2 separate regions of the Homo sapiens genome follow, and region 1 is linked to region 2. Evidence: fine-mapped expression QTL. A gene starts in region 2. The other region holds a variant in brackets. All regions are shown on one strand. Distances are from middle to middle.

The links. PIP is the estimated chance that this variant, and not a neighbour inherited with it, causes the effect.
Region 1: its variant is fine-mapped to the expression of DUSP18 in fibroblasts (GTEx, PIP above 0.99).

What each region holds. Positions count from the first base shown.
Region 1 is chr22:30,715,100-30,719,099 of GRCh38, reverse strand. The region is part of intron 1 of OSBP2 (oxysterol binding protein 2); the gene reads right to left. Among named protein-coding and RNA genes, the nearest start is that of MIR3200, 14 kb to the left of the region's middle. RefSeq lists an enhancer at 1,053-2,252. The variant C/T (reference allele first, on the strand shown) is at 1,654.
Region 2 is chr22:30,665,695-30,670,217 of GRCh38, reverse strand. It overlaps DUSP18 (dual specificity phosphatase 18), which reads left to right and starts at 2,343. Exons shown (of 2, transcript NM_152511.5): 1 at 2,343-2,756. It also overlaps a transcript of SLC35E4 not described here. RefSeq lists an enhancer at 1,856-2,245.

The DNA.
Region 1 (4,000 bases), 49 kb before region 2:
TCAAGGTTAAGAACACTCTAATCCCGTCTCTAGAAGGCAAAGGCTCAGTAAGCTGACAGATAAATTCAAACTCAGAAGAACTGCAGGATTCAAAAGAAGAAAATTGCTTCCATGCCTGTATCTAGCAAAATAATTTTATTTTCTGAAAATAAAAAATTCAAAGAAGGTGCCTTTCTTGTCACAGTGCATGAACAACTCAGCAAAAAGTCCCCACTCAGTCTGCCCGCAAGGCTCCCAAGTCTGAGAACCAGAACACACCATCAGCCCTGTTCCCATGCTGCCCCAGGGCTCAGGAGCAAGGGCCCAGGCCATTTCTGCAACAAATCTGTTAGTACTGGCAGGGGGAAAAAAAAGGGGGAGACAAGCACCCGGATGTTGTCACTGCAACTCCGAAGTTGTAAAGTTGCAACTCCAACAGCAGTGCCCAGGGCCTGTGGCCCCAGGGGCAGGAAGGCCAGTGAACACCTGAGGCCCAGCTAAAGCATCCCCCATTCTTTCCCTACCAGGTCAGTCACCAGATTCCTGGCCTCCTGGACTCAGATCTCCAAGCCATTAAGTCAACAGACATTTCCCGAGTCCTTTGATGTGCCAAGCCCAGTGCCAAGCATACAGGTCATCTTTTATATCTCATCTCTCCTCCTCCTCCTTCCAGATGGTTTCCCATCAAATTTTCAGAAAGGTAAGGATAGAAAGAACCCCAGACATCACCTAGCCTAGTCCTCTCACTCTATAGATAAAGAGGCTAAAGGATGTGATCGTTAGAAGGGAGGTTAGAGGCTGTGACAGACTGAAGCATTTCTCCTGTTTCTTTCTGCCATCCCTGAACTACAATTTTAAGTGCACAACTTTTGCCACTGGACTTTGTAGGATCCTCTAAAATGGGGAATGGATATCTTCCCACCCTACTGATATTGGACAGGGCCACATGCCTTGATTCAGCCAATGGAATGTGGAATGGAGTGAGGGTGTGCAGGCTCAAGCTGGGATGCTGTGACTCTCGATTACCCTCCTGTACTTCTGCCATCACAACAGGAAGACACACCTCCTAGCTTACTCCCAAGTGCCACTGCCTGAAGGAGACCTGGCCTGGTCATCTGCGGACCCTCAAGCAAGAGAAAACCACTGCTGCTTTAACCTCAGAGTTTAAATCACCACTGGGCAATGTGTTTTGAAGTTGCTTGATCCAGGAGGACAGGTGAGCTGAGGACTCGATTCTAACTCCCGCCCACCCTCGCCTGTCAGAATGCACACACAACCCATTGTCACTGAGGTGTCAGAGTAGAGCAAGGGATCAGCAGGAGATGATGATGCTGGAGAGGCAGAGATGAGGCCAGTCCTGAGGGGGAGTCATGTTGGCACATATTTGAGATGAATAGAAGATGAATAAGGAGACTCTAAGTGTCAAAATAAGAGTCTCAACCAGCAATCTTTGTCATCAACCTAAGGATCTGCTTTTGACTTCCATCTGCTTTCTTACAGGCTATGGCAATCATTCTTTTTGTAAGTACAGGGCTTTATAGCTAGTGAGCAAAGCCTAGAGATGTGAGAAGGGACTCTAGAGGTCCACTTTCCTGGATGTAACTTCCCATCTGGTCCTGGATGGCACAGCTGCAGCTGGACAGTAAAACATGTGTCATTTCCCCTTAGTGTAGG[C/T]GTTTTTCAAAAGGCCTTGATTTTTTCCCTGTGTCAAATGATCTTTGGCAAGGATGCCAAGATGACTCAGTGGGGGAAAGGACAGTCTCTTCAACAAATGATGTTGAAAAAACTGGATGTCCTTGTGCAAAAGAATGAAGTTAGACCCTTATCTCACACCATATGCAAAAATTAACTCAAAATGGATTAAAGACCCAGCAAGGTGCAGTGGCTCTTGCCTATAATCCCAGCTACTTGGGAGGCTGAGGTAGGAGAATCACTTGAGGCCAGGAGTTCAAGATCAGCCTGAGCAACATAGCGAGACCCTGTCTCTACACACACACACACACACACACACACACACACACACACACACAAAAACAGTAAAATTAAAACAAAATAGATTTAAATGCCTAAATGTAACATCTGTACAACTCCTAGAGAAAACCATAGGCATAAAGTTTCATGACATTGGATTTGGCAATGATTTCTTGGATATGACACCAAAAGCACAGGCAACAAAAGCAAAAACAGACAAATGGGACTCCATCGAAGGACACAACTTAAGTTCCTTGAAGGACACAATCAACAAAGTAAAAAGGAAACTTATGGAATAGGAGAAAATATTTGCTAATCATATATCTGACAGTGGGTTAATGTCTAGAATGTAAGAAGAACTTCTACAACTCAACAACAAAAATCAAATAAATGATTAAAAAATGAGCAAAGGGGCTAGGCATGGTGGCTCACACCTGTAATCCCAGCATTTTGGGAAGCTGAGGCGGGCAGATCACTTGAGGTCAGGAGTTCGAGACCAGCCTGGCCAACATGGTGAAATCCCATCTCTACAAAAATACAAAAAATTAGCCAGGCGTGGTGGTGGGCACCTGTAATCCCAGCTACTCAGAAGGCTGAGGCAGGAGAATTGCTTGAACCTGGGAGGCGGAGGTTGCAGTGAGCCGAGATTGAGCCATTGCACTCCAGCCCGGGCAACCATGTGAGACTCTGTCTCAAAAAAACAAAAAACAAAACAAAACAAAAAAACAAACAAACAAAAAAAGGATTTGAACAGACATTTCTCTAAAGATGTTATACAAACGATCAACAAGCATATGAAAAGATGCTCAGCCAGGTGTGGTGGCTTATGCCTGTAGTCCCAGCACTTTGGGAGGCTGAAACAGGCAGATCACCTGAGGTCAGGAGTTCAAGACCAGCCTGGCCAACATGGCAAAACCCCATCTCTACTAAAAGTACAAAAATTAGCTGGGTGTGGTGGCAGGCACCTGTAATCACAGCTACTCAGGAGGCTGAGGCAGAAGAATCACTTGAACCCAGGAGGTGGAGGTTGCAGTGAGCCGAGACCATGCCATTGCACTCCAGCCTGGGCGACAAGAGCGAGATTCTGTCTCAAAAAAAAAAAAAAGAAAGAAAGAAAGAAAGAAAAGATGCTTGTGGTTGGGCATGGTGGCACAGGCCTGTAATCCCGATACTTCGGGAGGCTGAGGTGGGATACTTTGGGAGGCTGAGGTGGGAGGATCACTTGAGCCCAGGAATTCGAGACCAGCTTGGATAACACTGCAAGATCCTGTGTTAAAAAAAAAAAAAAAAAAAGGTTAGGTGTGGTGGCTCATGCTTATAATCCCAGCACTTTGGGAGGCCAAGGTGGGAAGGTCGCCTGCGGTCAGGAGTTCAAGACCAGCCTGGCCAACATGTTGAAACCCCGTCTCTACTAAAAACACAAAAAATTAACTGGACATGGTGGCAGGCACCTGTAATCAATCACAGCTACCTGGGAGGCTGAGGCAGGAGAATCGCTTGAACCCAGGAGGCAGAGGTTGCAGTGAGCCGAGATGGCGCCATTGCACTCCAGCCTGGGCAACAAGAGTGAAACTCCACCTCAAAAAAAAAAAAAAATCTAAAAATTAGCCATGTGTGGTGGTGTGCACACCTGTATTCCCAGCTACTCAGGAGGCTGAGGTGGGAGGATCACTTGAGCCCCAGAGGTTGGGGCTGCAGTGAGCCATGATCATGCCACTACACTCCAGCCTGGACAATGAAGCAAGACTCTGTCCCCTCCTCCCTGGCCAAAAAAAAAAAAAGAGAGAGAGAGATGCTCATCACTTATCATCACAGAAATGCAAATCAAAACCACAATAGATACCATCTCACATCCATTAGGATGGCTACTATCAAAAACAAAACAAAACAAAAACAGAAAATAAATCATTGGCAAGGACGTAGAGAAACTGGAACCTTTAAGAAACATTGTTGGGCCAAGCACAGTAGCCCATGCCTGTAATCTCAGCACTTTGGGAGGATGAGGAGAGAGGATTCCTTGAGCCCAGGAGTTCCAGGCTAACCTGAGCAA
Region 2 (4,523 bases):
TTAAAAATAATTCTTCAGGATCAGGCACAGTGGCTGAGGCCTATAATCCCAGCACTTTGGGAGGCCAAGGTGGGCAGATCACTTGAGGTCAGGAGTTCGAGACCAGCCTGGCCAACATGGTGAAACCCCATCTCTACTAAAAATACAAAAATTAGCCGGGTGTAGTGGTGAGCACCTGTAATCCCAGCTAATCAGGAGGCTAAGGCAGGAGAATCACTGGAACCCAGGAGGCAGAGGTTGCAGTGAGCCAAGACTGTGCCACTGCACTCGGGCCTGGGCCACAGAGCTAGACTCTGTCTCAAAAAAAAAATTGTTCATATTTTCTTTCTAAAATGCGGAAACAAAATCTACAGTATGGAAGCAATTGAATAAATTTTGGTATGTCATAAAATAAAATACATGTAATTGTGTATGAAACATAGACGGGTGGTATATTAGATGGGAGAAAAAAGCAGGTTACTAAAAAGTGAACTTTTGTGATGTATCTTTTTTAAGTATAAGCATGTTGTAACATATATATATATATATATATATATATATATGAATGGATTCTGATCAAAATACACCAAAATGTTAACAGTGATTGTCCCTAGCCACTTATGCTGCTGGCCTGTCTTGTCTTCTTTTTATTTCTTCGAGACGGGGTCTCACTCTGTCCCCCAGGTTGGAGAGTAGTGGCACAATCTCAGCTCACTGCAACCTCCACATCCCAGGCTCAAGTGATCCTCCCACCTCAGCCTCCTGAGTAACTGGGACCACAGGTGAGCCACCAAGCCCGGCTAATTTTTTGTATTTTTGGTAGAGATGGGGTTTCACCCTGTTGCCCAGGCTGGTCTCGAACTCCTGAGCTCAGGTGATCCAACTGCCTCAGCGTTTCAAAGTGAAGTGGTGGGAATACAAGCGTGAGCCACCATGCCTGTCCTCATTTTTCTATAAGTGTACACTACTTTTATAATTGGGTCAAAAAAGACAACTGTAGAAGGATAAAAAATATTGAAGGACTAGTTTTTCTAATGCATTTTCAGCCTATTTGGAACTGGAGTGTTGTGAATGTTTTCATATTTACAAACTAGTATGAACAATCCAACTTCTCAATCTCTCATTTACATTTTTCTGACCTCTATGCATAGCCTAGGTGTGAGGTGATGGAAAAAGCTGGTTTAGAGATCAAGATGCTCAAACACAAAAGTCCCCCAAATCCTGAGAGTTTTTTGTTTTTTTAAAAAAATCCTTAAAACATTTAAAGACGCATAAAACTCTTCACCCACTCAGTGGTGCAAAAAATTTACCAATACTAGAAGGGGAGGAGGCTGGCAACGACTGGAAATATTCCCTTTCAAGTAATAAATAATGGTTATTTTGAACCAAATTGCTTTCCACCTCAAGTCCTCCATGGATGGGAGCCTGGAGGATGCAGTGATGGGGGTTATGGAATGGAAAGGAGCGTGGGTAATTGGGTTTGTGAGGATTGGGGCCAGGCAGAGGGAACTGGGGGCTTTTCCAGGACCACTGGGGAACACAGAGGCTGAGAAGGGGAGTGTGGGATGGGTTCGAGCTGGGGAGGACCTCGGCCTCGCCAGGCTCTAAGGAGAGTCACAGCTCACCACCTAGGGCGCTGGGACCACACGATGTCATGCCTGGGAGACTGAAGGGCTAGGACAGATTCTGAGAAAATGTGGACTGGAGATGGGGATTCCAGGTTCTCCCGGGAGTCCAGGCGAGGGAGTTCCGGCTTCAGGGAGTCCCAAGAGCTAGACTGGGAAGGGGCTGGTGCCCAGGACTATGAGAAATCCAGACTCCCCTGGGGTGTGAAAAAGGGCCGAGGTCCGGCTGAGGGAGAGCGAGTCTGAAAGAGTTCGGGCTCCCTTGCGGGTCCGAGAGTCTAACGAAGGCTCTGGGCACCCAGGCCGCACCTGAAGAGCACCAACGACTGCTCGGTCCGCGGCGCGGGAAGGAGATGTGCGGCTGAACCCCTACGCCGATTACTTAGCGGCGGCCCTATCGAGAGGGTGGTTCGAGCCCGAGGTGGCGCCGGTCCCGTAAATCGTGGAGGATCTCAGGTCCCCTGTGACCAAGGGCGTAGTCAGCTGTGTCATGGCGGCTTCCCTGTTCGAGAAACAGTTGGAAACTGGAGGCCGGTTGGGAGTCATGGTCGTTGGGCGCACGGAGGCCGGTTGGAAGCCATGGTCGTTGGGCGCCAGGAGGCCGGTTGAGAGCCGTGCTCGTTGGACGCGCGCAGACCTGGAGTTAGTCCCTGGGCGGAACCTGGAGCCCCGCGCGGCGCGTTGCCTGGGAGACGCATAAGGGGGCGGGGCCGGGGAGGGAGTGTCGCACATGCGCACAGAGCCCGGGCGGCTACGGAAGCGGTGAGACTGTCTCTCGGCTGCAGCCCTGGTGCGACCCGGCCCGTTGCCGTAGAGATGGGCAGGGCTGGATGGAGTGGGGTGCGGTGAGCTGAGCTGACCCTGCTTCGCCACGGGGACTGCAGTGACCCCGGCTTGCCGGCAGGGCGGGTAACAGGTTGAGCCAGGGTGGGGCTGCTCAGGGGCGTGGAGCCGAGGCCAGGATTTCTCTGAAGACCCGGCACAGGCTATTCCTTTCTGCGACGAGCCCATTGCTATGGAAACCAAAGCGTTAGGCCAGCGGGGATTGAGGCTGCGGGATCATGACGGGTCTCTCTCCCGAAGAACCTTGCCTAAGGCTTCCCCAAGCGGCTACTTCCTGAGCGAACCCGCCCACCCGCCTGAAGGAGAGAGGTAAAACCCTGGGGGTCCTGACACTAAGCAGGCGAAGAAGCCTATTCCAATGCCAGCTCCCCTAGGAAACCTACCCGGCCCACCCCTAGAAGTGATGCTTCGCTCTCGTTAACTCTTGGACTTTGTTCCATGTTTATAACTTAGTATTTCACGAACGCCCCGCGGTGTTTGTTCATTTTTCCCACACATAATGGACCATAAAGGTCGGCTTCTTTGCTTTATGACTCGTTCTGAACAAGTCCTTTTCCGCGCTGTGTCTCACTTTCCTCTTTTGTAAAATGGAAATATTAACTCTAGACGCCGGTCTGATTAGGTTGCTTTGAAGATCGAACCAGATGAGGGAAGCCAAATACTTCATAGGCTGTAAAGTGGTGAAGCTGAACTGCTACCGAGTTGCTATTTTTTTCTCCTCCTCCCTCTCAAGCTAAACGTTCTTTAGATCTTTTGTGATTTCTTCAGGTGGTCTTTGCGACTCCCTAGGCTCCGACCTGGAAGAAATCTTTTTTACACTTCCCTTTCACAGAGCCCTGCATTTTAACTTCCCTATCAGAAGCGAGAAAAATAGTTATCATTTTGAGAGGGCTTACTCTATGCCAAGCCCTGAGAAAACTCTTTACGTGGATTATCTCGTTTAATTTCACAACATCCTTTTAAGGTAGGTACTGTTATCCTATTTTCAAGCTCTGTCTGCCTGTAATTGCCTGTTTACTATCTGTTTCTCCCACTAGTCTTTGAGCTCCCTGAGAAAAGGGGCCATGCCTGTCTTGTACATTTCAGTATCTCCAACACCTAATACAGTGCCTGATAGAGATTGCTTTTTTTTTTTTTTTTTTTTTTTTTGAGATGGAGTCTCACGCTGTCTCCCAGGCTGGAGTGCAGTGGCACGATCTTGGCTCACTGCAGCCTCCGCCTCCCGGGTTCAAGCAATTCTCCCGTCTCAGCCTCCTGAGTAGCTGGGACTACAGGCCCATGCCACCACGCCTGGCTAATTTTTGTATTTTTAGTAGAGACGGGGGTTTCACCATGTTGGTCAGGCTGGTCTTGAACTCCTGACCTCAGGTGATCTGCCCGCCTCGGCCTTCCAAAGTGCTGGGATTATAGGCTTAAGCCACCGTGCCCAGCCCTGATAGATATTTCTTAACTAGCATGAAAATGACTCCTCGCATCACTACCCTCACCTGCAAGAGCATTGTCACTTCTGCAGACTTTTAGTGGCTATAATGAACAGCACATTCCTCTATTCCCGTTACCCACTGGGCACTGGTTTGGGGGGACATCAGTTCACTTCTCTATGGATTTTCTGATGACGAGGATCCAGAACATTCCTTAGCATTTAGACTTCCATCTGGGTTCAGGAGGCTTTTTCTTTGCCCTTCATATCACCTCTGTAGCAAGCCAGCCCTCTCTGTCCTTCCGGGAATGAGCCTGATGCATTTGAGTCTGGGGCATTGGCAGGTAGGATTTGCCTATACAACCTTTGGTCTTTCTCTTTAGTAGCCTCAGAACCACCCCCATCCCCACCCAGCCCCTCCCTGGAATTCTGGAGACACGCTGCCAGAGAACTCATTCTTTCCAGAAAACCTCTCAGAAGGCAGAGTCATAGCTGTTGGGAGTCATTTCTTCATTCAACAAATATTTATCAAGCACCTACTTGTGGGGACACAGCGCTTGGCACTAGTTGGTGATAGAGTGGGAGTGAAGACAGACACCATCATATCCCTAAAGGGCTCACAGTCTCTTGGGGAGACAGACATTAATCAAATAATC